Homo sapiens: one gene and its partner. The protein of the gene in region 1 interacts with the protein of each later gene in a biochemical or structural test. Each region holds a gene or a part of one and is shown on either strand. Other genes may lie near its edges.

Region 1 (3,828 bases):
AAACTTGTCTTTTATATTTGCTTTTCTAAGAGGTTCACCAGAGCCTGAAATTATGAGCTAGCTCAATTGAAACTGCAAAGTTTTATAAAAAAGGTCTCTTGTAGAAGGTAACTATTAAAGCATAATGAGTTCAGATAAGACAGTATTGATCGATCTGAGTTTTATTTTATAGTTTAGTTTTGTTTTTGCATTTTCTCCTTACAAGTACTGTGTATCCACAGCATAATTATTTAACATATTGAGGAATTTCTAGTCAATGGCAGTTAGATATAGAATTGTCATTGCCTTTCAGCATTAATCAGAATTGTGACTGTGAAATCATCACTGTTTTATATGCCATATCTGACATCCACAAATCAATAATAAAGGAATTGCCTGAATATTTTGTGTTTCTTTTGGGGGATGAAAAGTCCCCACAGTGATATATGGCATATGCAATAAATTCTGGTACTTCCATCGCTATACAGAAAATATTATTGAGTACAGCATTTCATGGGGGAATAGTATCATTTGTTTCTTCATTCATGAGAATGAGTTAGGTGAACCATTTCACAAAAGAAGTGGGTTTTTCTTCAGAAATACTGGTAAAGAACATAGGTGGAACCAAACATGCAATTCATTATATGAACACTGTTGACTTTGCTTTGAAGCAAGAGCTGCCTTGTGCAGCATATATTCCTTTACTCCTTGTAAAAGATTTTTGCAGCTGGATATAATTCCGTTGCATTGATGGAGCAACAGAATAAATTATTACATAATTTAATTCAAAAAGAAATATTTCTTTCTAAAGAAAAAAGTGTACTGATGATTGCTTTTTATTTTATTTTACTTATTTTTTTTTGAGACAGGGTCTCACTCTGTCAGCCAGGCTGGAGTGCAGTGGCACAATCTGGGCTCACTGCAACCTCTGCCTCCCGAGTTCAAGCGATCCTCTCACCTCAGTCTCGTGAATATCTGAGCCTACAGACATGCATCACCACGCCCAGCTAATTTTTTGTATTTTTAGTAGAGACGGGGTTTCACCATGTTGCTCAGGCTGGTCTTAAACTCCCGTGCTTAAGCGATCCTCCCACCTCAGCCTCCCAAAGTGCTAGGATCAGGGGCATGAGCCACTGCGCCCAGCAAAATGAAATACAGCATTCTAACTTAGAAATGCCCTGTTGTTAAAAAAAATTTAAGAAAATTTAGTTTTAGTAAAATATTTTATAGATGACCAAAATTAGCTAAATCACATTCCTGAAAGTTACACCTAGGAAAGCAGTTTAAAATCATAATGTAAAATCAAGCTTACTCATTTTATTCTTCTGTAACTGTGTTTAGAAGTTAGACTATAATAGGATTTTATTCCTAATGACATTATTTTTTACTTATTCTCTAAGAAAGTTTAAATATATCAGACATTTTAATTTACCTCATTAATCTTCATTATCCCATGTGGGGAAGTTAATGCCAAGCATCATTTATTTAATATAATAAAATGAAAATAAAGTAAAAGCATTGCCTTCTTAAAATCCCACCACAAATAAAAGCAAGCCAGGTGTGGTCTCTGCCTTATTAAGCTGATGTTAGTTCTTGTTTTAAAATCTTACATAATATAAAAGAAGAATATAATATCAGAAGTATTTAATGATTTAGGAAAGATCTATCAAACTTTCTCAAATAGATATATCAAGAATAGATGGAAAAAATACCACTGCTTTTTTGGACGTAATTTTCCCTGTACTAAGTTGTTTGTATATGCATTAAAAATACACATTTAATATTTGTTCTGTTACAAGGTTTTGCATTAATCATCCTATTTTCTGTTTAAGGGTGTTGTGATTTTGAAGTTTATCTGTTCTGGATTTAAACAACAATAGCAACAACAAAGTTTTCATTTCCATTTGACTTAAGTCTAAAATATCTTTTCTTCCTTTGGATTAGAAACTTTTTTAAAAAATTGCTCCAAAGAAAGAAATGTTCTCTCTTCTTTTGTCCCCTGGGTAGTGCCTATGATCAGAAGCCACAAGTGGGAATGAGGCCCTCCAACCCCCCCACACCATCCAGCACGCCAGTGTCCCCACTGCATCATGCATCTCCAAACTCAACTCATACACCGAAACCTGACCGGGCCTTCCCAGCTCACCTCCCTCCATCGCAGTCCATACCAGATAGCAGCTACCCCATGGACCACAGGTAACCTGCAGATACCAGTTTTCTAGAAACTGTTTTTTGCGTTCTTGGAAAAAATTTCTATTAACAATTCTGAAGGCCTAGAGTAGATTTAAGGTGAGCCTATTAATTTTGCACATCTGTGCAAAATATTTTTAGAAAGAGCTCACTCTATCTATACTTATAATTTGTGGAGAAAGTCATTTATAAACATTCCTTTTATAAACATTTAAATTGGTTGCTAAAATGGAAAATTAATCTATCTACTGACATTTGAGCATTTCCCTTTCGCTTTGCTTGAATTAAATTGCTTCACTTAAACTTTAAATCAGATCATCCCATTTTTATGAGCATATGTGTGTACTTGTTCTGTAAAGTTAGGAGACTAATTTTAGTAGGTAGCTTATGGAATTAGGTTTTCTACCTTATATTGAATGGTTCAGCTGTACATAGTTTTGCAGAATATAACTTATTTGATTAAAACTGTTGACCATCTTTTCCAGGTGATTAATATTTAATATCAGTAGACGCATGACTCTGGACACTGCGAATATACAATTAAAGAGATAGAGACTCAATTAGTATTACTTAGAAAGGAGCAAGGCAAGAAGCATAGCATAGATCTAAGGAGAATACTGCGTTAGGTAATTCATGACTCCTTGAGATTAAGAAATTCATATTTAAGTAAAATACTAAATAAAACCTGTAGAGGTTCTGAGATGTACTACCTTAATATACAGCTTAAAATCAGGTTGCTTATATACAGCATCTCTCCTTCTTTATCTCTTCTGCCCTGTGCTTCTGTATGCAGTGGCGTGCTGGTAAATGTTTAGCAACAGCCTGCATGAGAGAAAAACAAAACGCCCTCATCAGTAGCTTTTGCTGGGTCTGTGATGTACATATTGCTTTCATGGCCCACTACGAGCCATCACTGTGAGAACCCTGAATGCCGAGTTGCAAAGATGCAATAGCACAGCGTAATGTAGTATTTCTAGCATACGGATACCAGAGACATAAGTAACCTCAGGTGTATAATTGGTAATGAAATGTAGTAAGATAATTAGAAAGTGATGAGTTTTGCATTTTTATCTTCTGTTTTTAACATATTTTTTGATTGTGAAGTTATATAATTTAACTGTTAATAGTGGCTGTGTTTAAGAACTGGCTCAAAAAATTCCTGCAAGTTTGACAATAAGTCAGTGCAAACTGGCCCTGAGACACCGTTGTAAAAATAACTCAGCCAAAGGAATCTTCTAGATCAGCAGAGGAAAGCAGAAGATGTGCCACTGGCAACTTTCTGAAAATAAGGGAGCACTCAAATGTGCTTTTTATAGGTTTTTTCATGGGACTCAATCTCAAATTCAGAAACTCATTTTGCTATAAAGGGCGTAAGATGAAAGCGTTCTTTACAATGTGATACAAAGCCTTGTCTTTTCCACCCTTGGTTCCATCACTAAGTCCTCTTGTGGGGTAGTTATTAAATGCTTCCTATTATCTTTTTCTTCTCACCCTGTAGCCTTGAGACTTTGTCAGAGTGCAATGGTATGTGCATCTGTGTAAACAGTTTTGTAAATACAGATGAAAGAATTCTTATTGCAGGGTGGGCCATTAAACAGATGGACATTGTGCAGAGCTGAAAGGGAACAAAAAAATATGAACAAACCAAGTTTTATTTTC
Region 2 (3,828 bases), on another chromosome or scaffold:
AATGCCATTTGGAAAGGAAGTCAGTGCAAGAATAAATTGTATACAAATTAATGTGGTTATAATCTTAACTATTTGCTCCATGCCTGATATTATCAAAGTGACCTTGTGAGGATGAGATGTTCAGTGAAACAACTTGAAGGAATTTGTTGTTAAATGACTAGTCCCCAACTATCCTAGTGCTAAGAGGTTGTTGAATAGGAGCCTGCTTCTTGTTGGTCTGCTTTGCCAGCGGGTTGAATTTTGACATATTTCAGTCATCTACATGGTTGAGATGCTTTGTTGCACGAGTGGAAATACAAAATAATGTCTGACATTAGGATTCCAGTGCTCTAGAGGTCTCTGGTCAAGTCAATGGTATGGGTAGTAGCTTTTCTGATTCATGTGGTCCAAGGAAGTCATTATAACCACATAGCTTTATATATGAATCATTTGCCTATGTCAGTGAACTGTGATGCTGATTGTCTTAATCATGAGCTCTTTACCTGAACATTTAGAAGCCTTGCATTCTTACTCTTAATGCAGGTTAAGTTGAACTTTGATTTCAGAAGTGAGTTGACTGAAAGGTAACAGGAGTATTGAAATGAGTTATCCTGTCATTCAGGTCAATAGGTGGAGCTAGAGCAATCCAGGAATCAGACCTAGGTTCATTTCTCAGTTCTGCCATCTGGACTTTGTCATCAAATTCTGGAGCTTTAGGCAAGTGCCTTAATGTTTTTGGCTTTAAAAGTATAAACTGAGGCTGTCAGAACTTTTTTTTATAGAAGGCTTGTTCCTCAGATAGGTGGTTCTTGAGAAAACATACTAGGACAAAAAGAGCCCTTCTTGGGTGATAATCAGAAGCCTAAGTTAAGAACAGTAGTCAAAGTTAGGATTTTGTAATTTTGTAATTTTCAGAAGCCAAAAAAATTGTTGAGTTGAATTTTTTCTTTAATATCCAGACTTAGAAAACAAATGGAAGGCTTCACCATAAGCTAGAGATTCTTGGAAAGGTAGGCTTTTATTTATTCCACAGCATCATGCCTTCTAATGAGACCGTATGCTCCCAGAGACTTTGTGGAAGACATAAAATGAGTTCATTATCCTCAGGAAGCTTATAATCAAGGATTAGACTGAAGGCATCGCTAAACAGTTAATTTATGCTCTTTTAAAAGGTATATGAAAGGGTTCCCGCCAAACAAAAGCCCACTTCACATCTCTGTGCAGGCCAAATTTCACTGAAATCCAGTTTTTAAAATTGTGTGTGTGTGTGTGTGTGTGTGTATGTGTGTATACGTATGTGCATGGAGAGAGACAGAGAGGAGACCCCTTTTTGGAAAACTTAGTAGCTTCCATTCTTTTTCTTGGAGGTGGGTTATATCACAAATACAAGAGATACCTGTGTTTCCTGTTACCCTTTATTATATTTCAGATTTAGTTAAAATCTGCCATTCTTTAGAAAGTCAAGGAACTCAAACCTTACAATGATTGCTAGCGTGGGTTTTAAGGTCAGCCCTGAGTTCTAATCGTGCTCCAATCTAACTGTGGTATAGGCTAGTTCAGGTTATATAACATATTTGGGCCTGTTTTATTATCTGTCAAATGAGAATAATAATAGCACGTAACCTCATAGGGCTGTGAGGTTTAAATTAGGTACTGCATGTAAAGTGCCTGGCACTGTTGTGGTGGCTGGAATGCTAGATACAAGTATTCAGGTAGTTTTTGCTATTGTTATCACTTATATTTAACTTTGAACAAACATAAAATGCCAAGTAAACGTCAAACCAGTTTAATGCACAGTGTCCATTCTAATTCTCCAGAATATGCCATTTGTTTCACTCTGCATCTCTGGGGGGTTTATTTAAAATTCGATCATCTCATGTAATCTGAATTGACTGAGATGATTTATATTAACATTTGGACCAGTAATCCTCTCTATCTTAAAATTTGGAAATGTTCCAGAAGCAAATATTGAAGGGAACATATTTGCCACTTTCACGATTTTTTGCCTTTTCCCACAGGAGAAAATTGCCTAAGCTTTCCTAGGTTTGTTATAGACATCTAAAGGAATGAGAATTTAGGAGCTACGAATAGCTTTATCATGTGACACATTTGAAGAAAATGGAATGCTGTCACATCTTTTAAATTTAGTGTTATTGGGATCTTCGATTCTGTGAAGATTGCAGATTTGTCAGAGACCTGGTAACCACAACAATTCATTGAGGCCTGGAGGCCTCTTAAAAAATGAGGGAGATTATTTATTAGTACCACTTAGAAATATTATCTTTTCTGTATTTTCTGTGGTTTTCTAAGTCTTCTGTTTAGCGTTTCTATGATTATAATGGTGGATTAAATTTCTTGTTCCTTCTCAAGAGCATCTACTATGAGATGACACTGGTTTTTACTTCGGCAGTATTTACTGAGCATTGCACTATACTAATCCAGGTATTCGGTGATGTAGGAACCAAAGGAAATAGAAGTCAGTTTCTACCCTCAGTGAGCTGAGTATAATTTGATAGAAGATAAGGATTAACGTAAGCACATTTATGTCCTAACACAAGGAAGCAAATATTGTTAGTCATTTCATTAGGAATTTCTTTTGTCATTGGGGCATTTGGGGCCTTCCAAACCTTACATCTCTTGCCATGCCTTTGTACTCACTCGATAAACCTGAGAAAGCAAGATATCTTCTTTTCTGATTCCTGGTTTAAGTTGAGAGTGTGGTGCACATTAGTCAAAATCCAAATCATAAGAAAAGGCAAACCTTATGAATTCATTTTGGAATACAACAGGGTATCAAAATAAGTATATGAGAAATATGAAAAGCTGACAGTAGAAAAGATGCTACTCAGGTACTAACCAGAGTTCTCAATCTCCTCTGTATTGAAGCTCTTATGATGTAAGGCTGGATCTGTACTAGAAACACTTTTTAAAGTCTCTCTCCAGTATTGAGAAGTATAGTCCTCCAGTACTGCCTCTTGGTGCTGAGAGACTCAAGCCTGCCACCCACCATATTTCTGGGGAAACTAGAAACGAAAAATAGCCACACACAAGCACTTGCTTTGCTTGGCAGGAAACATCAAAACCATAAGATGTTATTTCCTAAAAGTCATTAATTGGGTAGAAAAATCACCATTTTCTGACTTGTTCCAGGAAGGATGGCTTTCTGATTTTCAGATGCCATTGGGTCAACCAAAGGTAAGATAAAGAAAAGCTACTGCTGTGTGGATTTTTCTGTGACTTGAGAAAGCGTCACTTTTCAGTTAAACAAAAACCAAAGCATCTAGCTTTGGCTGTTACTATTGAGAATTTAAAAGTCTTAATGTTTTAATTTGTTTACATTTTATATTTTGACTAAGTAGTAATGAATTCACTTTGACTCAAAATTCCAAAGATTTAAAAAGATAAAGAATCTCCTTTTCTACTCTGTGTAGCCACCTAGTTCTTCTGCCTGGAAACTGTTAAAATTCCTGTGAATACTTCCAAAGATAGTTTATATATGTTTAAGTATATAATCCTTTGTTCAAAATCCTTGGTCCAGATGTATTTTAGAATGAAGGCTTTTTTTGCAGTTGTGGAAAGATAATGTAGCACATCTACCGTGTTATCCAAAATCCCTAGTAAGAGGTTGTAGCCTCATGATTAAACACATTAACATTTCTGTAAAAAATACAGACATAGGCCAGGCGCGGTGGCTCACGCCTGTAATCTGAGCACTTTGGGAGGCCGAGGCGGGCGGATCACCTGAGGTCAGGAGTTTGAGACCAGCTTGGCCAACATAGTGATACCCCGTCTATACTAAAAATACAAAAATTAGCTGGGCGTGGTAGCGTACGCCTGTAATCCCAGCTA

The links.
Region 2: of the proteins of ETV1 (region 1) and MAPK8, one has a biochemical effect on the other in vitro, tested with the Homo sapiens proteins (one study listed by BioGRID).

Annotation. Positions count from the first base shown.
Region 1 is NC_000007.14:13,934,055-13,937,882, reverse strand, and holds part of ETV1 (ETS translocation variant 1), read left to right. Parts: intron 1-1,986; coding exon 1,987-2,175; intron 2,176-3,828. UniProt on the Homo sapiens protein: Transcriptional activator that binds to DNA sequences containing the consensus pentanucleotide 5'-CGGA[AT]-3'. Required for olfactory dopaminergic neuron differentiation; may directly activate expression of tyrosine hydroxylase (TH).
Region 2 is NC_000010.11:48,309,495-48,313,322, forward strand, and holds part of MAPK8 (mitogen-activated protein kinase 8), read left to right. Parts: intron 1-3,828. UniProt on the Homo sapiens protein: Serine/threonine-protein kinase involved in various processes such as cell proliferation, differentiation, migration, transformation and programmed cell death.